6 separate regions of the Homo sapiens genome follow, and regions 1, 2, 3, 4 and 5 are each linked to region 6. The links come from fine-mapping of genetic effects on gene expression. Tissue or cell type: whole blood. Region 6 holds a variant in brackets; each other region holds the start of a gene. Each region is shown on its reference strand, or each on the opposite one.

The links. PIP is the estimated chance that this variant, and not a neighbour inherited with it, causes the effect.
Region 1: PTMS starts here. The variant in region 6 is the best candidate, but not a certain one, in a credible set for the expression of PTMS in whole blood (TOPMed, PIP 0.61).
Region 2: it holds the start of PLEK2, and the variant in region 6 is fine-mapped to the expression of PLEK2 in whole blood (TOPMed, PIP above 0.99).
Region 3: it holds the start of KRT1, and the variant in region 6 is fine-mapped to the expression of KRT1 in whole blood (TOPMed, PIP 0.96).
Region 4: AHSP starts here. The variant in region 6 is fine-mapped to the expression of AHSP in whole blood (TOPMed, PIP above 0.99).
Region 5: it holds the start of GATA1, and the variant in region 6 is the best candidate, but not a certain one, in a credible set for the expression of GATA1 in whole blood (TOPMed, PIP 0.86).

The regions. Positions count from the first base shown.
Region 1 is chr12:6,764,845-6,768,919 of GRCh38, reverse strand. PTMS (parathymosin) reads right to left here and starts at 2,557. Exons shown (of 5, transcript NM_002824.6): 1 at 2,170-2,557. The coding sequence starts at 2,214. RefSeq lists silencers at 1,753-2,252, 2,363-2,692.
Region 2 is chr14:67,409,728-67,413,815 of GRCh38, reverse strand. PLEK2 (pleckstrin 2) reads left to right here and starts at 1,651. Exons shown (of 9, transcript NM_016445.3): 1 at 1,651-1,798. The coding sequence starts at 1,757. It also overlaps a transcript of GPHN not described here.
Region 3 is chr12:52,678,042-52,682,126 of GRCh38, reverse strand. It overlaps KRT1 (keratin 1), which reads left to right and starts at 1,720. Exons shown (of 9, transcript NM_006121.4): 1 at 1,720-2,369; 2 at 3,371-3,585; 3 at 3,904-3,964. The coding sequence starts at 1,779.
Region 4 is chr16:31,525,740-31,529,827 of GRCh38, reverse strand. AHSP (alpha hemoglobin stabilizing protein) reads right to left here and starts at 1,928. Exons shown (of 3, transcript NM_016633.4): 1 at 1,866-1,928; 2 at 1,614-1,692; 3 at 1,025-1,370. The coding sequence starts at 1,688. The coding sequence ends at 1,137.
Region 5 is chrX:48,784,825-48,788,912 of GRCh38, reverse strand. GATA1 (GATA binding protein 1) reads right to left here and starts at 2,323. Exons shown (of 6, transcript NM_002049.4): 1 at 2,268-2,323. RefSeq lists cis regulatory regions at 2,076-3,196, 3,636-4,088.
Region 6 is chr6:139,517,276-139,521,363 of GRCh38, reverse strand. No RefSeq gene overlaps it. Among named protein-coding and RNA genes, the nearest start is that of LINC01625, 45 kb to the right of the region's middle. RefSeq lists a cis regulatory region at 2,270-2,746. The variant T/G (reference allele first, on the strand shown) is at 1,808.

The DNA of each region.
Region 1 (4,075 bases), not on the chromosome of region 6:
GAAATGTAGGTGAAGTAGAAGAGAAAACAAGGAGGGGAAGAGTAGCAGGCGTGGGAAACAAGGAGAGAGCAACAAACAAGGTCTGTGACTGGGGTGGGATAGGAATGGAGAAGAGGGAGGGACCAGTCTAGGAGACCCTCCCACCAGCCAGCCCCTCTCCTTCACCCCAAGATCCTAGCAGGCATAGGTTGACGTCCTGTGCTGATATGGCACATCTGAGTCCCTTCTGGACACTACACTAGCCTCCCAATTCAGATTCCAGTGCTCTCCCCACCCACTCCTTGGCAGGCACAGTGTAACACGGTAGGTGTCCTTGTGTGATCTGATCTGGTGTTGGTGTGCCACGCTGTGTATCTGATTCCATGTGAATGGAAGTCTCCTGTGTGAGATCACCCTGGGCGGGGGGGTCCTTTCTGGAACAGGATAGGGGATAGGAGAGGAGCCTGGTGCAGAACGGCTGCCCTGGGGGGCACTCAATTCCCTTCTCCCTTTAAGGGTAGCTCAGAACTCTTCACTCTCACTCCAGAGAGGGTGCCCTTCCACCCCACCGTGAGGTCTTCATTTCTGTGCCACAAGGTCAGTATGGCATTTCCACTACCTAGGGGGCTCTTCCCTACGTCCTGGGCCAGGAGAGCAAAGAGCTGGTCAGCTTCTCTCTGGGGGCCCCAGCACCAAAAGTCTGTATGGCCCTGGCCTGACTTTCCCATCTGGGCTGATGCAGGGAGGGAGAATACCAGAGACCAAAGTTCAAGGGGCCGGGCCCTCTCCTCCCCTGTTCTGTCCTTCTGGTCACTGTCCTTCCATGATCCCTTTTCCAGGAGAATATGTGACCTGGGCCCTAGGTCTTCTGCTAAGCAGCCCTCTGGCCTCATTTACTCAACACAGGCACACACACCGACACCGGCCGACAGCCATGCACAGACACAGTTAGAGAGGAGCACCCACGCGATGGGAGACACATGGCCCAGCGTTGGGCCATTCTGGTCCACACTCTTGAGACAGCACGGGAGCACAGCGGAGCCACTCAGCACTCACAAAGCGACAACATGGCTCCAGAACATCTACGTCTCCACATGCACACATGTAACTGACACGGGCAGTCCCACACACTCGCTGGATTTCAGACATACAAAGACACCTACTCAGTGAAGTCACATGCCACCGCACAGCCCGCCGGAGGGCCACACGGGCGCACCTTGGCAGATCGCACACAGCCCCTCTCCCACCGCCGTTAATCCCATTGGCTCCCCCCGTTTCACTCCGCGGGCCTCCGGGAGACCTGTGTGACGGCCCCTCAGCAACCACCGCGCCCCCCCCCCCCGCCATACACATACACACACAAGATAGGGCTCCCAGCCCCCAAACCCCGGCCGCGTTAATTTCCCAAAGCGACACTCCGCAGGTTCCCTGGGGAAATTAGAGGAAGGCTGGAAGAGAGGCAAGGGCGAACGGATGGGGCCGGGGAAGGGAGCTGATGAGGGCGAGGACAGCTCGACGCAATGCCATGCAATGCCCAGCCTCGGCTTTTTCGAAGGCTAGTCCTGCCCCGCTTCTAATTTTTAGGAATTCGAGATTCTTTCAGTGTGTATGCGGGAAGGGGACGATGAAGAGAAAAGAAAGCTGAAAGCCAGCTGAGGGGAGGGAACGAGAAAACAGAGGCGGCCGCCGTCCGGGGAGAGAAGCGAGCGACGGTCGGGCCGCGGGGAGGGGCCCGGAGGAGCAGCCTCCAGGGAGAGTCCTGTTTACACTTGAGGATCTCAAACCGCTTAGCGAGGAAAGGTGAGGTCAGGTTGCAAGCAAAGACGCGGCAGCGGGGCGCAGGGAGGGGGCGCGGCAAAGTGAGACTCGGGGCGTTCGGACGGGAAGCCGGACGGGATCCGGTCAGCGAGGTGGGGCCGAAGAGGGGTGGGGACGGCTGCGGGGGACGGCGCGACCGGAGCGGCGAGGCCGGGCGCCGTGGTGCGCGCAGGGCAGCTAGAGGGCGCTGGCGCTAGCCGCGCGGAGCCGGGAAAGGAGCTCCGGGCCGGGGAGCGGTGGGAGGGCGCAGTGGGGTCCGCCAGGACCCGGGCGCAAGGGCCGCGCGGGGCCGTCGGGGGCGGCCTGGGGCGAAGGACCGCGCCGGGCCCCAGGGCTGCGCGAGGTCCGGGCCGCCGCCGCCCCCGCCCGTACCTTGGCGCTCAACTCGGCCGCTGCCTCCACGCTTTTCTCCGACATGGTGCCGGGGCCGGGGCCGGGGCTGGCGGGGAGCCGGGGTCCCGGGGCCGAGACGGAGGGGCCCTGGACGGCGGAGGGTGGCCGCGGCCGGAACCTGGCGCGGTGGCGGCGGCGGCGGCGACAGCGGCAGCGGCGGCCGCTCGGCAAGCTGGGTCTCTGGAAGAGGCGGCAGAGGCGCGCGGGGTGGGGCGGGGGTGGGTCTGGAGCGGAGACCCGCAGGGCTGCGGCCGTCCGGAGGGCGGGCGGAAGGGCGGTGCAGGCGGTGGCCGGCGCGCTCGGCCGCGGTAGCTCGATCCCGGGCTCGCCGCCCCCGCACCAGCAGAGCTGCCGCCGACCAGCCGCTGCCGCCCCCGGGAAGGGAACCCGCTTATAAGGCGGCGCTGCCCGACGGGAGGGGCTTCCCAGGGGTGGGGCAGGCGGGAGCGGGGAGGAGAGGAGAGGGGAGGGGGATGAAAGAGGAGGTTGGAGAGGTGGGGATAGGAGGATGAAAGCGAGGGGAGGGAGAGCTAGGGAGTCGGGAGGGAGGACGAGACCAGGAGGGGGAAATGGAGAGACTGACGGCCGCGGAGAAAGAGTGGGGCGAGGAGGTGGGAAGGGGTGGGGTTCCTGCGGGGAGGCACCTTTCCAAATCCCAACCTACTGCCTGCGAATGTGGAGTCTGGCTTTTGGGGGCGGACTGGAGAGGTGGCCAGAATCCTACTGACCCCAAAAAAAGCCCTGGGATTTTGCCAAGGGGTGGGGTGAGGGGAGCAGATGGGAAGATAGGGCAGGTATTTGAGAAACCAAAAGCTTAAAGAAGAGGAAGAGGGTTCGGGCGCTCCTTCCACACCACGCCGGATTTCCCCCTCTCATCCTCCATCCACATTCTCTGGATGGCCTTGAGGAGGGATGGGAGGGCAGAAAGGGCGGCCCAGCCTTCTGTCCCGCCAGATTGACACTTGTGACCCTTGCCGGGTGCCTCCCTTCCTGGCCCCGTGCTGTGAGCCGGGGGGAGTCAGGCCCCCTGGTCTCCTTTGCTGTCTTCCAGCTCTCTTCCATCTTCTACCTCTCTTATTCGCCCGTCTCACCTCACTTTTATTCGCCTGGTCCTTCTATTTCTCTTCATCCGTCCTCAGTCATCTGTACCTAGACCCCTCCTTCACAACCAATTATAACTCGAATCGCTCCCATTCTTCTCTCACCTCTTCTCCACTCCTCACTGACTCTCTTCTGCCCTTCCACCTCTGGTCTCTTTCCCTATCTTTCCCAGACAACCCTGCTCTTGTCTTATCTGAGTCAGGCACCTGGCCCTCTATTCTTGGCTGGCTTTCCTCAACTCCTCTTTCTGTCCTCATTTTTTACATTTTCCATCCTTCAGCTTTTCTCATTCCTCTGCTGCCATCTTCCCTAGCCTTTCTGGGTTATATTTGCCTCCTTTGCAAATATAATACAGGTCCAGGTCTGGAGTTCCAGCCCCACCCTATTCCACACATCCTCAGCTCCTCGCCCTCAATCTCGGTATCTTTGAGTCATTTTGAAAAGCTTGGGATTTCAGAAGGGAACAGGGGCTGGGTTGTGTATTAAAGGTCAGGAAGGTGGACAGAGTGGAAGGCTGGGGTTTGGAAAAAGACCTTTGGTGTGCGTGCACTCCCATATTTGTCTGTCATTATCATTATTCCTCATCTTATTATTTTCATTTTATTAATAAAAAACTACGTTGATGATCATTATCATTATTTTGTGTTTGAGTGCTTAAATACACCATCTTTTGGTCCCTTGATGTACACGCCTCCCAGTTTCTCTTTCTGACTTTTCTATCAATATTTCAGTCTCAGTCTCCTCAAAAATCTTGGGGCCCCACCCAGGATTTTTCCTTGCCGGA
Region 2 (4,088 bases), not on the chromosome of region 6:
AAGGTGACCAGCTGATGTTCATTCTGAATTGGAATGGAAGCCCCACTGCTTTGGGGCTTCCTGGGAAGTCTGAAGGCCAGTTAGTGCAGAAGGCTAGAGTGGGCCATTGGGCTGGCACGCAGTGACCCAGACCCTGCGAGTTTTCCTTGGGGCTGGCAGGTGGGAGTGGGGTTGGGGGGATGTAATATGTCTACTACAGACATGTAGAAGCAACACTGTGTCAAGAGCTCCAGGGCAGGGACTGGCCTGGGAGCTGGCTTCAGTCTGGTTCTGAAAGGCACCCCCCGCCTTCCACAAGCTGGTTCACCTTCTTCCTCTCTAGAGCCTTCTCTTCCCTTACAGGCATCTGAGGGCCTTTCCCATGCCTGGTGAAGAGTCCTGACAGGGCCCTTCAAACTGGAGCACAAATAATATGGACCGGCCCCATGACTCATGCCCACAATCCCAGCACTTTGGGAGGCTGAGGCAGGAGGACTGCTTGAGCCCAGGAGTTCGAGACCAGTCTGGACAATATAGTGAGACCCTGTCTCTATAAATAAAAATAAATTTTAAAAAAATGTGTGACTGTGTTCTAAGGATTGTTAGACAGAATCAGTACTATTTGACTGAGTTTCCTTCTGTTCCAGGCTCCAATATGGCCTGATAGAACATTGTTGTTGATCCTATCTATTTAAAATGTTAGCATTTTGTTCATCGTGGATTTTTTGACATTAATTTTGATTTTAAAAAATGCATTAAAATATTATTTTTCTAGGTCTTACACGGTGGCTCTTGCCTGTAATCCCAGCACTTTGGGAAGCCCAGGCCGGAGGATTGCTTGAGGCCAGGAATCAAGACCAGCCTGGGCAACATAGCAACACCCTATCTCTACGAAAAATAAAAATAAACCAGCCAGGCATGGTGGTGCACTCCTGTAGTCCTAGCTACTTGGGGAGCTGAGGCAGGAGGATCTTAAGCCCAGAGTTTAAGGCTGCAGTGAGCTATGATCACACCACTGCACTCCAGCCTGGGTGACAGAGAAAGACCCTGTCTCAAAAAACAAACAAAAAACCCCAAAAAACCAATCATCTCTCTCTATATATAATTTGTCTAGGTTACTGGACTCCTTGGTGCCCCCTTAAATTTTGTCCTTAATGATGGAATTTTCGGCTTCATCTTTTTTGAGGGAGCGGGGTATATCCTGCGGACAGGGGGCCCTGCAAACTGTGCCTGCCGCCTTAAAACTGTGACCTTCCTGTTACTGAGAGGTCTTCTCTGCCCCCATCAGAGGCCAGGATAAAATTCCCATACCAGTTTCGGCTCACCCACTGTCCCATCTCCTACTTGCAATGAGCTCAGGAATGGCTCCAAATCCTGGAGTCCTGTCGGTTATGTTCAATTCGATAAGCGTTCCTCGAGGGCAATGCGCTAAGTGCCCGGGAAGCACCTGGCGAAGGACGCTGAGCAGAGAGACTGGAACAGTGAGGGGCGCGGGGCGCACCTGGATGGGGCGGGGTTGGCCGCTCTGTACCTGGAGGACCAACCACCGACCCTGGAGCACCTTTGGGTGGAAACGTCACGTCAGAAATCCCGACTTGGTCTGACTTCCTGCCCCGGGGCCTCAGGCTCTGGACACGCGCCAGGGAGGCGTCGCCCTGCCGCGTCGGAGCTGCTTCCTGGGCGCCGTGGGCGCGGACTGCGCGGGCTGCGCGGGTGCCGAGGAGCGCGAGGCGCGGGGAAGGCGCACCTGGGGTGGCCCTGGCGTGCGGGCGGCGACATGGAGGACGGCGTGCTCAAGGAGGGCTTCCTGGTCAAGAGGGTGAGTGCGCGTCGAGCTTCGGGACATTGCCCGGGTGGGGCCCCGCCGACGCGGCTCCCTAGAGCGGGGCCAGACGCGCGCCCCGGAACGGGCATGCTCTGGTTCCCATCCCCAACCCCCATGGTGGGACCGGGCCGCCTGTGGCCCTGATGGGCAGAGCTGCATGTCCGAGGGGACGCGGGGTAAGCGGTGGCTCAGCGCACAGGCAAGGAGGAGAATCCCACTTGGTTAGCGCAGTATGGAGTCGGGGCAGGGGTACTGAAGCGTGTGTCTTAATTAAAACTTGTTAAAATATTATGAATGGTATGATATTTAAATAATATTTACTAAGATAATATAGGCGTGCTCTGTAATTTACAACCTGTGAAGGAGGAATGCTACTATGTGTCTTAAGCACTTACTGTTGGCCAGCCCTGGATATTGTCTCATGTCATCCTCCCAGCAGCCCTGCTTTCATCAAGGGGGAAAACGAAGCCCAGAGGAGTTAGGGAACTTGCTCGGGGCGGTGAAGGCAGTGGGTGGTGGAGCCAGGATCGGGATCAGACCCACTCAGGTTGACCCAAACCTTTACTGCCTCCCCAGTGCCATACACGGTGGGTACTGACATCACTCTATTACAGACGGGGAAACTGAGGACCAGAAAGATGAAGTAGCTTGCCCAGAGCTCCAGAGCCAGTAATAGCTGGGACAGGAACTGCATGTTCTGACCTCCCCTCCTCAGTCCTTCCCCACCACCCCAGGTGGCCCAGGGCAAACGAGTGCAAACAAAAACTCAGTGCCTGGGATTATGGTAGAAGATGAACAAAAGAGCAGCTGCAAAAGGAAGTTTGTTATTTCAAAATTTTTTCCTGATTTGACCTTTTTTTTTTTTTTTTTTTTTTGAGACAGGGTCACCCAGGCTGGAGTGCAGTGGCACAATCCTGGCTCACCACAGCCTCGACTTCCCAGGCTCAGGTGGTCCTCTCACCTCAGCTTCCCTAGTAGCTGGGACTACAGGTATCCACTACTATGCCCAGCTAATTTTTGTATTTTTTTGTGGAGACAGGGTTTCGCCATGTTTCCCAGGCAGGTCTTGAACTCCCGGGTTTAAGTCATCTGCCCACCTTAGCCTCCCAAGGTGCTGGGATAACAGGCGTGAGCCACCACACAGAGCGTAATTTGAACAATGACATTAACACTAACCATTTATACTGCTATGATGGCATAGCAAAGAGACATATAAATCCAGGGCTGAGCTTTCTGGTTCTTCTACTGAGTTTTCAGCTTTGGGAGGGGAATGAAGAGGGATGAGGGGCCCTTCCTTTCATTGCCTCCCGGGGTGGCTGGATCAGCCCTAAAGTCTCACATCACTTTCATTTTCCCCACAAAATGTGTCCACATGATGTTGCACGTTATTTGGTACAGGAGAGCGGTGGCTGTTTGCTGTAAACAGTAAGCAAGGAGGGTAGAAGCTGATGCCAGATCAAGGGTCAGACTGGATAGAGCAGTACAAAGCGCCACGCCCACTTGCCACTGTGGCTGAACTGATAGGCCGGTTTCTCGCAGCATGTGGAGGTGGCTGCACCTCAGACTACACATGGGGAGCTCCTAATCTCACATTTAACTGCGGCTTGGGAGGTGGGAGGGAGAGTGAGAGCTGGGCACGGGGCTTTTTGTTGGCACTGTTGATATAGCTGGGCCCTGGTAGAGCCTGTGGAGGGATGAAGTTAACATGGAGACAGATCCTTCTGATAGAGCTTTGGGAGTTTTGGAGGCCTTCTCCTGTTCCTGGGGGTTACCTTCCATCATTCCCTATCACCCCCACCATGCTGAGAGTCAGAGGAGGGCTAAGGGCAGAGCCACAGAGCTCCCAGGATATCACCAGGAGGATGGGACTTCTCTTCTGGGTGGCCTGGTTAGGGAATCCAGGGTGCAGAAAATGAGGAGAGTCAACAGATCTGGTCCCCGTAAGCCCTTGGAAAAGACGGGGCTTGGCTGAAATACCTAGAGCTCATTCCAGCCAGACCCAAAGACTGGGATGGAGCCTGACCCTGAGGCAAGCAGAAGTCACACCCCTCCCTGCAGGCTGAAGGATAGGGCCCCAGAACCCTGTTGTGGTCCCAGTCTGCTGAGTAATCCCAACTTTTTCAACCCTCCATATCCCCTCTACTCTTAGATGGCAATAGCATTCCCTATGTCCACTGGAGAAGTTGCAGGCTGTGGCAGGGGGATTCCATAGTCTTAGGAGAGTTAAGAGCTCAGAGGTGGGGCAGGGCCTGCGTTGGAAGCCGGAGTGCAGAGCAGTCATCAC
Region 3 (4,085 bases), not on the chromosome of region 6:
CATCTATGGTTTGCCACTTACAGAGTTACTTGGAGCCAGCTGAAGTTAGAGCTGGCTTCTCCCCTTTGAGTCTTCAATTCTGTGTTTATGTGCAGGCCCGGGGACCATGCCAGGCTTCTAAGAAGTCTTCGAATGAAAGTCTGCTTGGGCTTCTAGTGTGTCCAGATCTCAGTGCCACTATTATCCACTGATATTGATCAAGTGCTGCTCTCCAGGAAGACCCCTGAGGTTTCCTGGTCCATTGCAATGCATGCTGGGTACTCTTGCACTTGGATGGAAGTAAAATCTCCTCACTAAACTCTGTGCCACCAAAATCTCCTTCTCAGTGTGAATTGAAGAAACATTTTCCAAGACTTGCATGTGCCAGGAGCCAAGGACTCAGAGTGATAAAACAGGCCTTCTGCCCTCAGAGCTCTCTGTGGTGGGGCGCTTCCTGTGCTGTCTGGCTTTACACACAGCAGGCAGAATGACTTGAATTCGGCTGCTGTGCTGTCGTACAACATGCTGTTTAGGATCTTGCACATGATAGCTAGGTATTCTTGCTTCAAATCGCAGGCACCCCACTTACCAACTGTGTAGACTTGATCACGTTATTCAACCCCTGTGTCTCTGCTTCCTCATTTTACAAATGGGGAGAAAAATAGCATCTATCTCAAAGTTGTGAAAATTAAGCAAGTTAATACATATGTGCTACGTAGAACAGTGCCTGGTACATGGTCAGTTTTTGATACATGTTAGGTATTATCATTATTATCACCTCCAGAAACAATTTAAACTTCTCATATAAGGCTCTCCAGACACCTCTCATTGTCTTCCCTTCCAAATCTGCATTTATCTCTCTCTCTTTGCAGTCCAGTGTGAGGCTTGAATCACCTATCAAGCCTCACCTCCACCCCTGTGCTTTACAAAATGTCCTAGAGCTTCTATTTACTCGTCTCACTGCTCTGTGGGCTTTTTCACTCAAGGGCGTTTGCATGCTATCCATTGCTACCTGTTTTCTATTGCTGGTGTCTGTCTCCTGCTCTATCTTTGAAGAAAAGAAACAAGAAAAGGAATAACTGAGAAACAGAGAAAAAAAATGTCTCTCCCTTCTGGTTCTTCCAGACCACCCACTCATCCATCTTGTTCAATGACAGCTTCTCTTCCTTTAATTAATCACTGTGGTATATTTATAAAGCTTATATTTATGAAAGACCTTTTAATTTTTTAGTTATTAAAGCCCTTTCTCTTTGTCAGGTTGTAACTGAGTGAGCTCTGGAGTTTGGAAAGAAGATCTTAGAAATGGGCCAGAGAGCTCCTTCTGAGATCCAAGCACGGGGAATTGCACCTGCTGTGCATGGTAAGAGAGTGTGCTTGGTAGCTCACAAAGGCAAGGTGAGAATAGAAACTTTCATGCCTTTTTGATGGGGGTTATGAAATCCTACCAAGAAACACCAGGTATCAGATGTGGGGTCCTGTTTTCCCAAAGCCACAAATGCTTGAAGGAAGATCTTGTGTGATAAAATAATTACCACATGAACCAATCTTGCATGCACAGCAATTTTGAGAGCCCATCCTGGGAGCTAGGTGTGTAGTGTTTATCGTATTGTTGAGGCTCGTAAAAATCTTGTATGGCTGCAGGCAAGCCAAACCCTTGACAGGCACTGCATCTCCGCTGACTCTAGAAGACCAAGCCCAATTTCTTCCCTGTATATAAGGGGAAGTCTCTATGCTTGGGGTAGAGGAGTGTTTAGCTCCTTCCCTTACTCTACCTTGCTCCTACTTTTCTCTAAGTCAACATGAGTCGACAGTTTAGTTCCAGGTCTGGGTACCGAAGTGGAGGGGGCTTCAGCTCTGGCTCTGCTGGGATCATCAACTACCAGCGCAGGACCACCAGCAGCTCCACACGCCGCAGTGGAGGAGGTGGTGGGAGATTTTCAAGCTGTGGTGGTGGTGGTGGTAGCTTTGGTGCTGGTGGTGGATTTGGAAGTCGGAGTCTTGTTAACCTTGGTGGCAGTAAAAGCATCTCCATAAGTGTGGCTAGAGGAGGTGGACGTGGTAGTGGCTTTGGTGGTGGTTATGGTGGTGGTGGCTTTGGTGGTGGTGGCTTTGGTGGTGGTGGCTTTGGTGGAGGTGGCATTGGGGGTGGTGGCTTTGGTGGTTTTGGCAGTGGTGGTGGTGGTTTTGGTGGAGGTGGCTTTGGGGGTGGTGGATATGGGGGTGGTTATGGTCCTGTCTGCCCTCCTGGTGGCATACAAGAAGTCACTATCAACCAGAGCCTTCTTCAGCCCCTCAATGTGGAGATTGACCCTGAGATCCAAAAGGTGAAGTCTCGAGAAAGGGAGCAAATCAAGTCACTCAACAACCAATTTGCCTCCTTCATTGACAAGGTGAGTTTCTCTCTCATTGCACTGGTAGGGCTGCCGCTGGTCCACTTGGGATTGGTGCAGTCAAAACACAGTAGGTTTGAACCTCAAGTTTCCATGTTTACATGATTAAAAGGATGTTTTGTGGAATGGTCTCCTAGGAGATATGTTAGATGTATGCTTGTGAATGGTGTTAATGACTCTCTCTTTGACAAAGGGTTCGTGGTCGACCTAAAGGTGGGTCAGTGTGACATTAACATTTAAGTGCTTTTTATTCAGCTCTTGAGCGGAATTGGGACTCATATCTGTTGAATGAAGATAATAGAAATGGGGCTAACTGAACTTTCCAGGGTGCAAGTGAGAACCCTGGAAAGGTCTTCCTAACCATAGAAAGGGAGTTGAGTGTGAACATAGTATAGAGTGTTATTGTAGCAGAAAACATGTGGTCAGTCAGTGCCAAACATCTTTTGCTGTCAGAGGGGAGCTCTGCCTTCTAATAATTTTACATTGGTACTGGATGAGGCTAGAGTTTTTTTATACTAATATCTCCAAAAATCAGCTCTAAAAAACTCAGATAAACCATTTTTTTAATTTTTTGCTTAATCATTAATAGTGCCAATCCAAGGTTATCCACAACAAATTTCAAATCCAATTTTGAATTTTCCTGATATACTTTTGAAATGTGTGTGTGTCCTGGGGATGCAAACCAGTTTTTATGGTAATATACCTAACAAAATTTTGGAAGGCAAATCTCTTAAATACCATGCACCTATTTCAAAACATAATTGCAATAATTCTGTATGCGCTTTGCTATTGGTATTTGTTTAGTTACTCCCTTCCAAGCCCTCTCTGAATTAACAAGTTGGGTTTTATTATGCAGATGATATTAACTTGATCATCTTCTTCCTATTTCTCTGTCATGGTCAGAAGATAGGAATTGAGGTTCTTTTCCAAATGAGGCACAGTTCTCCATGGCTATGAGACTCCATTTATGCATCAGGAGTAAAGGGGTCTTGTGTTTTTAGGTGAGGTTCCTGGAGCAGCAGAACCAGGTACTGCAAACAAAATGGGAGCTGCTGCAGCAGGTAGATACCTCCACTAGAACCCATAATTTAGAGCCCTACTTTGAGTCATTCATCAACAATCTCCGAAGGAGAGTGGACCAACTGAAGAGTGATCAATCTCGGTTGGATTCGGAACTGAAGAACATGCAGGACATGGTGGAGGATTACCGGAACAAGTAAGGGACCCTGTCTGGGCAGTTCTTAACTTTTGCTGTAAAAGAGTTCCAGAAAGTAATAAGCTAAGATCATGAAGCAGCATGTAGCTATGTCTTTTCTTAGGTTAGAGGCACATCAGTTTGACATTTTCAGAAATCTTCATTTTCTCAGGAGATGGAAATAGTCTAGTGGTTTTATTGCTCAGTAGAAAGTAGTGGCCAATATGTCCTAGGTTCATAATAGAAAGGCAGTGATAGGCAATGCCACCTTTAGTTTAGAATGCTGGACTTCAGGTCTTACCACCTCTGAATCTCCTAATTGTTTCTGCTTTCCTGCAGGTATGAGGATGAAATCAACAAGCGGACAAATGCAGAGAATGAATTTGTGACCATCAAGAAGGTAAGCAAATTCTGTAGGACGGAACTCACATTTGAAATAAATAAGGGAAGAGGGTCTCCAATTACTAAGCAGAAAGCAGCCATGATATGGAGAGCCAGGTAGTAGACCTGGGGAGTATATG
Region 4 (4,088 bases), not on the chromosome of region 6:
GTCCCAGAGGAAAGCTTGCTGGAGGTTGGAACGAGGAGCAATCCCTCTGGGCCCCAAACTTTTCCCGCGTTAGAGAGAACACCGAAAAGGTCCAGAACTGCGCCCTCCAGCTCCCCGCGCGCACCCTGAGCCGCGTCTGATTGCTGTGCGGCGCCTCCTAGCCGCGCCCCCGCCCCGCGCACCCCCGCCCCCGCTCAGCACCCCGGGAACCCCCTCCCCCCGCGCGCCCCCGCCCCGCGCACCCTCCCCCGGAGGGCCCTCCCCTCTGCGCGTGGAGGCTTTTCCTGGAGACTGCGCCGCGGGTCTAACACCTTCATTTCGTTTTTAAAAAGCTCTTGAGTCTGGCCCGTCCCTGGTTCCGCCCAGAGCCCTAAAATAGAGGCTTCGAGTCTGGAGGTCTGGGAGAAAGGGAGCTAGACCGGGAATTGATCTGAGAAGCTTGGGGTGGGGGGAAGGCGGATTCCTCTGCTTCCCAATCCTGGCATCTGCGCCCAGGGATGTTGGAGCCAAAGGGAAGTGGCTTCCCCTCCTGAAATATAAGGGGCGCGCTAAAGGGTTCCCAGGATCCCTTCCAACTCTAAATTCCTGCGATGCCTGGGGCTCCGGGGAGGTATTTTGCGGTAGTCAGAGTCCGAAGATCCTAGAATGTAGTTTGAGCTGGGGCTAAGGACAGGGGATTGAAAAGTCGAGGCGGTGGACCTGGCGCAGGATGAACAAGACTGGGAGACTTCCAACAGTTTCCTCCTCGACAAGCAGGTCACAGGACAATGTCTGGAGGACTTCTATCCCCCTTTCTTGTTTCTGCCACCCCCTCCCCTGCAGCTCTGCACTCTCTCTAGTCCCGCCTTCCTGGCCCTCGTTCAGCCTGTTTTAGTTTAGAATCGCTGCCCGGTGGTCACTCAAGGCTGCTAACCTCTGCTGTAAGGAATTAAGCTTCCAAGAGCATATCTAAGAAGGAGGGCGGAAGGAAAGGGACCGAGTGCCTCCACATGTCAGGACAGACCATGAAAGAGAAGCCAGGAAGTCCAACAAAACCAGCACTGGTCTTTATTGAGGTGTCAGGGTAGAGTGGCAGGAGCACAGCCTAAGGACATGAAGGTCAGAGTTTCTCAGAGAGGAGGGGCTGGGTCCCTGAGCTAGGAGGAGGGCGGTGGGTGACTCGGGAGCTCATGAGACTTCAGGAAGTCCCTGTACTTGGCCAGGAAAGGGTTGGCCAGAGTGTTCAGCTCTTGCCGAAGCTCCTGCAGAGCCTTGTCTCGCTCTTGGGGCTCCCCTGTCACCTGCTGCCTGTAATAGTTGATGTAGAAGTTCATCCAGTCCTCCACCACAGTCACCATGTCTTCTTCAGAGACGAGAGGATCATTGAAGACCTGGGGGGTTGCGGAGAGGCAGTTGGCAAGGGAGAATGTGGTCAGCAATGGGATTCGGGAATACTAGAATAGTGCCACAGCACCAACTCTCACATTCTCTTTCCTCTGCATTGTATCCCGTGTCTCTCGTTGTTTCCATCAACTCCACCATTACTTCACCAGCTCCAATTATCCTCTTCCTCCACTTCCCCGGCACCCCCCAGTCTCCAGGCCAGTCCTTTGAAATGGAAAGCTTGGACTCACCTGCTGATTCAGCAGAACGCTGAACTCCTTCAATCCTGCGGAAATGAGATCCTTATTGGCCTTAAGAAGAGCCATCTGCCTGGGTAGAGAAAAGGGTAGAATTTACATATCTGTTTCCCTCCTCACTGGGTATTTCCCCCAACCCACTTCCTCCCCTTAAAAATCCCTCCTGCCCTGCAGGGCTATCTCCTTTCCAAAACCTTTCACATCCTGCCCTGCTCTGAGGTCACGATTTTCCCAGGTTGGGCTCACCTTCAGGTCTAACAGGCTGTATATGTCTCACCCACACTCTTGAGGGTGCGTGAATCTCTCTGTGCCAAGCTATAGATGTAGGCAAGGAGTCAAGTGTCAGCCTAAGATAGAAACGCCCTGCATCTAGGTCCTGAAGGAGGGTGATAGGTCATTCTAGGGAGGAGAAGAAGGGAGAGGCTTCCCTGAAGGTAGAAAGATAACAAGGCCAAAAAAAAAAAAAAAAAAGATAAATGAGGAAACCCAGGAAATGCAAGAAGGCAAGAGCCAAACCAGGGGCATGTTCCTGCTTTTTGCCCCATATTTCAGTATCCAGGCTCGAAATGCTATGGAAATTGACGTTTACTGAGCCCTATTACATGACAGAGGCTTTTGTGTAATCACAACGATGTGATCGCAATGATTCTCCCAATTCGGAGATGATGTATTAATAGCAGCTTGCATTACATTTATTCATTTGTGCCAAGCACTGTTTCAAACATGTACAAAATATTTATCCTATAAAATTTCTTTTTAGACACATTTTGCAGATAAGCCACCTGTAAGCGTGTGGACTGAACTCCACCACGCTGTGCTCCATAAGAATGGAGATAAATAGCCGGGCGTGGTGGCGGGCACCTGTAGTCTCAGCTACTTGGGAGGCTGAGGCACGAAAATCGCTTGAACCCAGGAGGCAGAGGTTGCAGTGAGCCAAGATCACACCACAGCACTCCAGCCTGGGTGACAGGGCGAGACTCCATCTCAAAAGAAAAAAAAGAATGGAGATGGATTTGTCTTGTTTACTACCCTGTCAACAGGTACCCAATAAAGCAGAAATACTCTTTTTCCTCTTTTTAAATATTTTTCCAGATATTTTCCATTTTCAGTAGATGTTTCTCAAATTTCAAAATCACTATATACTAATTGAAATAATTAAAACAATACAAAAACGTACACTGAAAAACTGAATCATTTTTGCCCCCTCCAAAGTAACCAGCATTAAACATTGTATATTTCCTGTCACTTTTTTTTTCCATTCAAAACCCAACATTCATAGGTGCCTATACACTCATAAAGCTTTGTTGATTTGCCTTTTTGGTTGTAGCATTTTTTAATCAATATACAGCAAAACTGACTTCCTTTTGGTGTACAGTATATTAAATTTTTTTTTTTTGAGAGGGAGTCTCCCTCTGTGGCCCAGGCTGGAGTGCAGTGATGCGATCTCAGCTCACTGCAAACTTTACCTCCCAGGTTCAGGCGATTCTCCTGCCTCAGCCTCCCAAGTAGCTGGGATTACAGGCGTGCATCACCACGCCTAGCTAATTTTTGTATTTTAGTAGAGATGGGGTTTCACCATGTTGGCCAGGCTAGTCTCGAACTCCTGACCTCAAGTGATCGACCCACCTTGGCCTCCCAAAGTGCTGGGATTACAGGTGTGAGCTACCGCATCTGGCCTAGTTTATTAATTTTATAACAGATTTGTGTAACTACAAACGCAGTTAAGATACAGAATGTTTCTGTCACCCAAAAACCACTCCTTCACGTTACCCTTTTGTAGCCACCCCTACCCTCACCCATAACTTCTGGCAACCACTTATCTGTTCATCACTACAGTTAAGCCTTTTTCAGGATGTCATATAAATGGAATCATACAGTATGTAACCTTTGAGACTGACTTTTTTTGGTCAGCATGATGTTCTTGAGCTCCATCCAAGTTGTCACAAGTGTCAGTGGACACATTGCATTGTATGGATGCACTGTAGTTTGTTCATTCAGCCACGGAAGGACATCTGGATTGTTTGTACTTTGGGGCAAGTGTGAATAGAGTTGCTATAAACATTTGTGTACAGGTTTCCATGTGAACATGTTTTCATTTATATAGGGTGGAAAGTATGTGTTACCGGCCAGGCACGGTGGCTCCCATCTGTGATCCCAGCACTTTGGGAGGTCAAGGCAGGCAGATCACTTGAGGTCAGGAGTTCGAGACCATCCTGGCTAACATGGCGAAACCCCCTCTCTACTAAAAATACAAAAATTAGCCAGACATGGTGGCATGCACCTGTAATCCCAGCTACTTGGGAGGCTGAGGCAGGAGAATCGCTTGAACCCAGGAGGAAGAGGCCGCAGTGAGCGAAGATCACGCCACTGCACTCCAGCCTGGGTGACAGAGTGAGACCTTGTCTCTAAATAAATAAATAAATAAATAAATTTATTATCTTACAGACTTAGAGGTCAGAAATCTAAAAT
Region 5 (4,088 bases), not on the chromosome of region 6:
TATCTCTCTGAACATCTCTGCATCTCTCCCACTCTTCCTGCTTGTTTGTCTGTTCCCTCTGTTTCCCTCTCTTTGGGCCCTCTGACCTTATGTCCACGTGCCTCTTACTAGTCCCATACCCCTGACCGTACCCAGCCACATGCAGCTCAGGATAAGGAGCCTGGAATGCTGGCCCTGGCCCTATTGTGCTGGCCTGCTCTGTTTCTGTGTCTGTAGGGTGGAGTGACAGGGCTAGACTAGAAGGCTGTCTTCAAACTGCCCCTCACTCCTGCTTACATGACCCATGGTATAGACAGGCTAAGGGGCAGGCCCAGGCTTGGGAGTTATGCTAGGAAAGAGATGGGCCACAAGTGTGCCCACCGCCAACACCTTCTCAGCCCCAGGGTGCCTGCTGTTGCTCTCTGAAGAGAGTGTTTTGCTTCCCCATCTTGGTCTCCATCTCTTTCCTCTCTGTCTCTAATTCTGTGTTAGTCTCTGCCTCTTCACAGTGCTACCTGCGTGTATCTCTGCATTTCTATCTCCTTTTCTGCTCCCGGGTCTTTCCTTCTTTTTCTCCGGCCATCTGTCTGTCTCTGTCTCTTACTCGTTGAGTTTCTCTCTCTCTGTTTTTCCTTTCTCTTCATGTCTCTTTTGTCTCTTGCTCTTTGTCTCTGTGTCTCTGTCTCTCTCTTCCCATCTCTCCCTGTTTCTCCCTCTCTTCCCTGTCTCATTGTGTGTCTTCTGCTCACTCTTTCACCACTATTCCCTCATCCCCTCAACTCCACCTTACCCACCATGATCTCCCTCCAGCCCCACTGCCCCCAACCCCTGCACCTCACACGTTGGTGAGTCCAGGGCTGCCCACCCCTCCCATGGCAGGGGCCCAGCCTCCTCACCCCCAGTTATCACTCTCCGGACAGAGATAAAGTTTATCTCGAGGCTGGGGGATATGAAAGCTCCTTATCAGCTGCCCCACTAGAGTAAGTGTTGCCCCAACGGCGGCAGCAGGCAGCAGCTGGCACCCTCCACTCTCCCTCGGCCCCAGCCCCTCACCCCAGGTAACGTTCCAATCCCAGCCCTCAAGGGAGGGTCTCACCGGGCTGAAGGGAGCAGATATAAGGTCTAGGGGGCAGATATGGGGCTTAGGGGGAGATAGAGGTGGAATTTGAAGGTCAGATATGGGGTTAAGTCAGAGAGGTTTGGGGTGTAGCCATGGAGTTTGTGGGGAGGCAGATATGGGCGGGGTTGTGGAGCAGAGACGAGCTTGGAAGTTCAGAGACACATTTTGGGCTCAGGAATAGGTTGTGAAAACAGACGAGGTTGGGGGATCGGGGCGAAGTTTGAGAGTCAGAAATAAAGTTGAGAAGTAGTGTGGGAGTCAGATTCTGAGGGTCATAGAAAAGTCTGGGGAGTTCAAGGGTTTTTCTGGAGGAGAGATGGAGTTTAGGAGTCAAAGATCTGTTTGGGCAGACAGAATGTGGCTAGTAAAGGGGAGTTTGAGAAGCCAAGATAGAATTGGAGTAGAGAAAGGCTTGGAGCTGGAGAGATTCAGGGAGACAATGAGATGTGTTTTAGGGCTGAGATACGGTTTGGGGAAGGCAGACATGAGGGTTCATGCGGCAGAACAGATTTTGGGGAGTTGACTTGGTGTTTGAAGTGACAAAGATATTTTACTGAGCAGGCAGGGAGTTGGGAGAGATAAATGGTTTGCGGAGATCAGAGAGAAGTCATTGGGAACAAAGAGTGGGTTTGAAAGGCAGAGATGGTGGTAAGAGGATGGAGCTAGGGTTTGGCAGATCAGAGACAGGTTTGGGGGCTCAGAGAGAGTGGGGCAAAGACAAGGCGTTGTAGAGCAGATAAGGGGTTTGGGAGCAGAAAAGTGAGGTTTGGAGGAGAAGTCAGGGAGACAGAGACAAGTTTGGGTGAGTGGAAATCAGATATGGGACAGGGAAAGGATTTGGGGAGATAAAGTCATGTTTTGGGAGACAGAGTTAGTGTTTAGGGGAGACAGACCTAGGGGTATAGCGAGCAAAGTGAAGGGATCCAGAGGATATAGATATCTTGGACGGAGTGGATGAGAGGGCAGAAAGAGGTGGGGTTTAGGGGGTAGATTTGGGGTAGAAATGGGAGTTGGAAAGACAGGTGGGTTGGAGGAGCTGTAAAGGGATTCAGGGCTGGCTGACACTTTGGGGACCAGCTGTGGGTTGGGGAGCCTGGAGCAAGCATAAGGGTAGGGGCAGCAGGCCCAGGGTTGCCTTGGTGGGGGCTCTCTGGGGGCTGAGACTGACCTGGGCTGGTGGTTGCGGAGGGTTCGGCCGCCTTGGGGATGTGGCAAGCTCAGTGTGATCCCAGGGGGTGTCCTGGCTGGCCTTGGCCTTTGAGGCTCCCTTCCTCCCTCCCTCCCTCCCTCCCTTCTCCCTCCTCCCTCCTCCCCAGGGAGTGGCTGGTGCCCCAGTGGGTGGGGCAGTCCAGGGGAGGGGGCGGGTCCCATGCTTGTGGGGCACCTCTTGGGCACTGGAGGCCCTCTTCCACCCTCCCTGCCCACCCTGGGGATTCTTGGACCTCGCTCGACCTAGGCTCCCGTGGACTGTAGTGTCCAGACAAGCAAAATAGGCTGAAACCAAGATAAATGAAAATAGCAGATATGGTTTCATGACTTCACTGGGCTTTTCAGAGAGTAAAGCCCTTAATTTGTGCGGGGCCGGTGTGGGCTAGACTCCTGTGTATGTGCGTCTTCCTGGCTGCAGGGAGAGAAGGGATGTGGCTGTACCCATTTTGCAGGTGAGAAGAGTGAGGCTCAGAGAGGTTCTGCTGGATTTGAACTAGAGCCTGTGGGATACCTTGATGACCCAGGCTAAGCCTGCAGGCCAGGCCAGTGCTGGCGGGAGGCAGGGGCACACTCACTTAGCGCCCCACTGGGGCTTACGCCAGCTCCGGCCTGCCCTGGGGCAGCAGATAAGTCTTATCAGATGTAGGCGACCGTGGCTGTTGGCGCCGCAGTAACAGGCTGTCTTGGGGTGAGGGTGTGGGGGTAGGAACACCCAGGGACAGTGGCCTCAACTTCTTGCCCGCCATGCTGCCTTGGAGGCGGGAAACTGAGGTGGGAGCCAGGGATGATTCCTCGAGGAGTGGTATAGGGTAGGAAAGGAAAGGGGTGGAGTGGGAGAGACAGAGGCAGAGAGACAAACAAAAACAGAGATAGGCGGAGAGAGATGGAAATGGGGAGAAAGAGAGTGACAGAGATGAATAGAGAAGGAGACAGACGTGGAAAGAGGCAGAGAGAGGGCACAAAAGAAAAGGAGAGACAAAGAGGGCGAGACACCCGGGGAGAACCAGAGACCATTAAAGACATATAGAGAGAGGCAAAGAGAGAATGAGAGACAGAGATGGACAGAAGTGACAGATAAAACCTGAAAGGGAAAGAGGCCAAAGACAGAAGTGGAGAACTGAGAAGGGAGACAGAGACAGAGGGATATTCAGAGACAGACTCAGAAGAAGGTCCAGGCAGACTGGATCACACCCTGGGCATGTGGTGCCCATGCAGGTAGGATGGGAGGATGTGGATTGATGTAGCCTGTGGCTCTGCCCTCAGCCCTCAGCAGGGGACAACCAGAATGTGGCTAGGCCTCCGCACCCCAGTCCCCACACTCTTGCCCTGCCCCACCTCCTCCAAATATTAATGACAACAACCACAGTGTCTCATAGACCTCACATAGACTTGTACCTAACCTGAGCACTTTTTCTATATGAAAGCATCTGACACACATGCACACGTGGGACAAGGAGCTGTCCTGCCCACCTAGTCTACAGATGGGGAGACTGAGACCTACAAAGGGCAGAGGCCAAGGGTGGAGCCCCAGGTCAGTGGGGTCAGCTTGCCCACTGGCCCACCCTGGAGGGATCTTACCATTCTTATCTCACTCCTCTGAGCCTCAGTGTCCTCATATGCAATGGGAGATTTGAGGAGGAAAGAGAGCAAGCCCATGAATTCCTATTTATTGAGCTCCTGCTGGTGTGCCACGCCCCATGCTGAACCCTCATCAGTAATAAGGAGAACGAATACAAAGACACCTCTGACTTAAGTGGCAGTGGTTTCAGGAGATGGTCTC
Region 6 (4,088 bases):
CCTGGGTTGGCACAACGTTAGCCATCTAATCTTAAACACGTCACCTTTCAAAGGGTCTGTTTCCTTACTTAGAATACGAAGGCACTCTTGGGTTTCTCCTCGCTCTTAATTTTAAAATCTCTATTCCCATATTCCTACTGATAAATCTGAATAAAATATAAACCCCTACATTGACAATTACTACAGGAACGACAGTAATGAAGTGACAAAAATATTACTGCAATCATCTTTCTTCCTCCAAAAAACTACAGATTACAGCAACATCTCCAAAATTTAGTGTTAGATTTTCTCAGCATTCCACATCAAAGGAAAAACAGTTTAAATATATATACATATGAATGTATAAATTTGGTACCTTCACTGCAAAAAAAAATATCAGTGTGCAAAAATGAGTGCAAAAGAGATCACTCCTCATGCATGGAGTGGTGATTTCCCTGAAGTTTGGAGTAGACTTGGCGATTCAGAACATCACTTATCTTTATCCAAACTCCATAATCCATAAACTGTGGACCTATTTTCACCCCTAACCAATGAAAGACAGCTGGCTCCATGTATATAAAGAAATTGTATAAAACTCTATCCAAGTTTTCAGTTCGTTAATGACAAAGATTTGACTCCAGATTTCATCACTGTAACATCCCACCATTGTTCCCCCATGACTCACTGTACCTGATTTACAGGAAGATACAGTCTGAATATGAAAGGACATTTCATCATCAGCAACAACAGAAAGTATCCATTAAGTCATAATTATATGACTTGGTGTTTCATTAGTCACCTTAAAAAAAAAAAAAGAAAAAGAAAGAAAAGAAATACGGTCCTTCCATTCTAACTGGGTACATTCTACAACTAAAAAGAATGTTTTGAACCAGCATGATAAGGACATACAGATGGCAAAATGCAACATCACAGTTGATCACAAAGGCATAGATTTCTATATAAGGGTGACCAATAAGGAGCCAGCAGGGTCAACATGCGATGACGGCAATCAACATAGAGGTCTAGAAAAGTTGAGATAAGATAAAGCATGTGTTCTTATCACTCTGGGAAGACTTCCTGGAACTGGTAGCGTTTTTTGGTAGGGAAATATACATTGGCTGGTGGGCTGGGGGCTCAGGAAAGGTTCATAAAAGCAAGTGGAATAATTATTCAAGAGGGTGCTCACCTTGTGATCTGCTTACGGAGGTCCACTCACCTGGGACCCTAGATCTGCTGCACAATATTTGAAGGAGAGGATGCCGTTAGGGGACAAAAAGTTTGACAAGGACACAGAGACAGTGGTCCTGATAAAAGAAGACAAAGTTCTGCAACTAGGCAGACAGCAAGGAAAGCAGTGCATTCAGATGCTGGAAAGGAAGACATTCTCTCAAGCAGCAGATGGCCTCTCGTGGATCTCACTTGCACCGTACACCATGGCTTTAACAAGACATTTTGCAATGGGTAGCTTAGAATCTGGTATCCAAGAACAGTGACCCATTTCAGGGTGTCTTAATATCCTGAAATTTACCACAAACTTGGTAAGTTGAAGTTTCTGTGGGATATTATTGGGAAATGCTTCACATCCCTAAGTCATTCCTTCTCAACTGTTCCTCAAAAGCTTAAAATAGCACTTAACTCCCAGAGTGATTCAACTGGCTTAAAATAATTCACAAACATCTTCCTCAAAGGAAGTAGGGAAAAGATAGGAGGTGGAATGCAAATCAGCTAACAGGTTTTGTGAACACTGAGAGGTGAATAGATTAGCGCTAACAGATCGGGTAGAGTCTGGAGGCAGCCGTGAAGCTGATTGTGTCTCGATCAGGTTATT[T/G]CAGCCAATAATTGTTTGTTGGAGTTAGAAAGCATATAAAGGTTAACAAGGCTAAGGAAGACCGGTCTCTGGGAAATAAACTACATAGCCTAAGGAGATGATAATCAAGGGAGAAAATTCCTCTTATCCTTGCTAAGCCATATCTACATGGAAATAATAGTCAATAGGCTTTCTATATCTAGATGGTAACGGTTTCTTTTCCCAAGGATTGGCACCAGATAGGTTGTTTGGGGAAAGGGGTAAGAAGGGGAAGCACGTGGATTTGCCGCTCACACCTACTATAAACGCTACAAAACAACATTCTTCTTTTATTTTGAAGCCACATTCTGTAAGCTTGTGAGTTAATTCATTAATTCACCAGAAATTTATTTTACACTCATCACACATCAGACACTATGCCAGGCCCTCAGGATATAAAAGTGAATAAATAATATAATTAATCATAATAATAGCTTCCATTATTGGGTGGCTAGCATGTGCCAGGAATTCTACCTCCGTTATGCAATGGAATGCCCACAACTAACTTCTAAATGAGGCATTATGTTCCCATTTGTCAATGGAACACTAAGATGAAGAAATGAGCGTTCTGAGAGGCTAATAAAAGTGGCAGATGGCTCAAGGAACTCCAGTGTGAGAGCGAGATAAGCACTCCATGTTTGCAATATTCTATGGGAAATGCTAAAACAGAGATTACAAAAATAATAGGAGGAGCTTCTAACTCAGCACAGGGGAGAGGAGATCGATAGGCGAGGAGAGGGGAAAGTAGGAGTGTGTATGAGAGCCAGAGAGATAAGGTATCTCTCTGAGGGTGTGTGTGTGGGGGCGGGGGAGAATGTGTGTCCGTGTGTGTATGTCTGTGTGTGCGTGGGTATACATGTTTCTTTCTGTTTGTTTTTTGTTTTTTTGTTTGTTTGTTTGTTTGTTTTTGAGACAGACTCTCGCTCTGTCGCCCAGGCTGGAGTGCAATGGCACGATCTCGGCTCACTGCAACCTCTGCCTCCTGGGTTCAAACGATTCTTCTGCCACAGCCTCCCAGGTAGCTGGGATTACAGGCGCCCACCACCACACCTGGCTAATTTTTGTAGAGACGGGGTTTCACCATGTTGGCCAAGCTGGTCTTGAACTCCTGACCTCAGGTGATCTGCCCGCCTTGACCTCCCAGAGTGCTGGGATTACAGGCGTGAGCCACCACGCCCGGCCCTGGGTATACATATTTGTGTGTGTGTGTGTGTGTGTGTGTGTGCCTGCGCGCAAGTGCACATGTGCCCTGGGGGGGGGAGAAGGTCATAGCACCCCAGAGATATACAGTCCAGGAAAGGAGATAGGGGTAATATGAACTGTCTTTCAACCAACCATACCCACAAAAAGCTTCCCTCTGCATTTCTGCAGGATGAAGCGTGTTGCAAGAGAAAACAGCAGGGCTTACGCACAGTGTTTGGGGGATGACACAAGAGGCCCTGACAAGATACTTTTTATCAGCTTGAAGAAGAGGGGGCATTTATCTTGACAGACTAATTACCCGCTTTGAGTTAGATATTGTTCCGTCTATCCGTGTACCCAATGTGGCTATAGTAATGACAGGTTTTTTAAACAAACAAACCAAAGCTTCTAGGTCCAAATAAATGCTGCAAAGTAGTCACCTTAAGTTTAATTGCTTATTTCATTGTCTCTCTCATTGCTCAAGGCATTTCAGAAACATCTCTTTTGAAATTGCCTTCATAGCTTACGGTGCATTTTTTTTTTGAATATCCTTAACGGTGATAAATTTTCACCAGTTAAAGGGTAGTATTTTTGGTTTTGTTTCAAGTCAAAAAAATCATTTTGAGCTAAGTCCATGATGACTGATTAAACTGGATAAAAATAATCAAAAACACCAATTAAATGCTAGGCACTAAACTGTTTTTCATGAATCATCTCACCTAATTTAATTCTTAACACAAATCTATAAGGTGAATATTAATGTCCCTATTTGATATATATTTAATAATTATAAAATTAGCACATGTTATTGAAGGAAGGTTGAAAAATCTTGAAGAGTAGAGACCAAAGCTGCTTCAGTGTCCCACTTACCCACATCGAATCACTACTGATATTACTGCGCTTATCTACCTAGTGTTTCTTCTATGGGTAAGCATAAGAATACATTTTCCCCAAAAATTAATAACAATGTGTATAACCTTATAATTTTTCACTTACTATTATATTGTGAACAATTTTTCATGTCACTAAATTTCTTCCACAAAAATCTTTACTCCCTATTTGGTATTCCTGTTTGTGGATA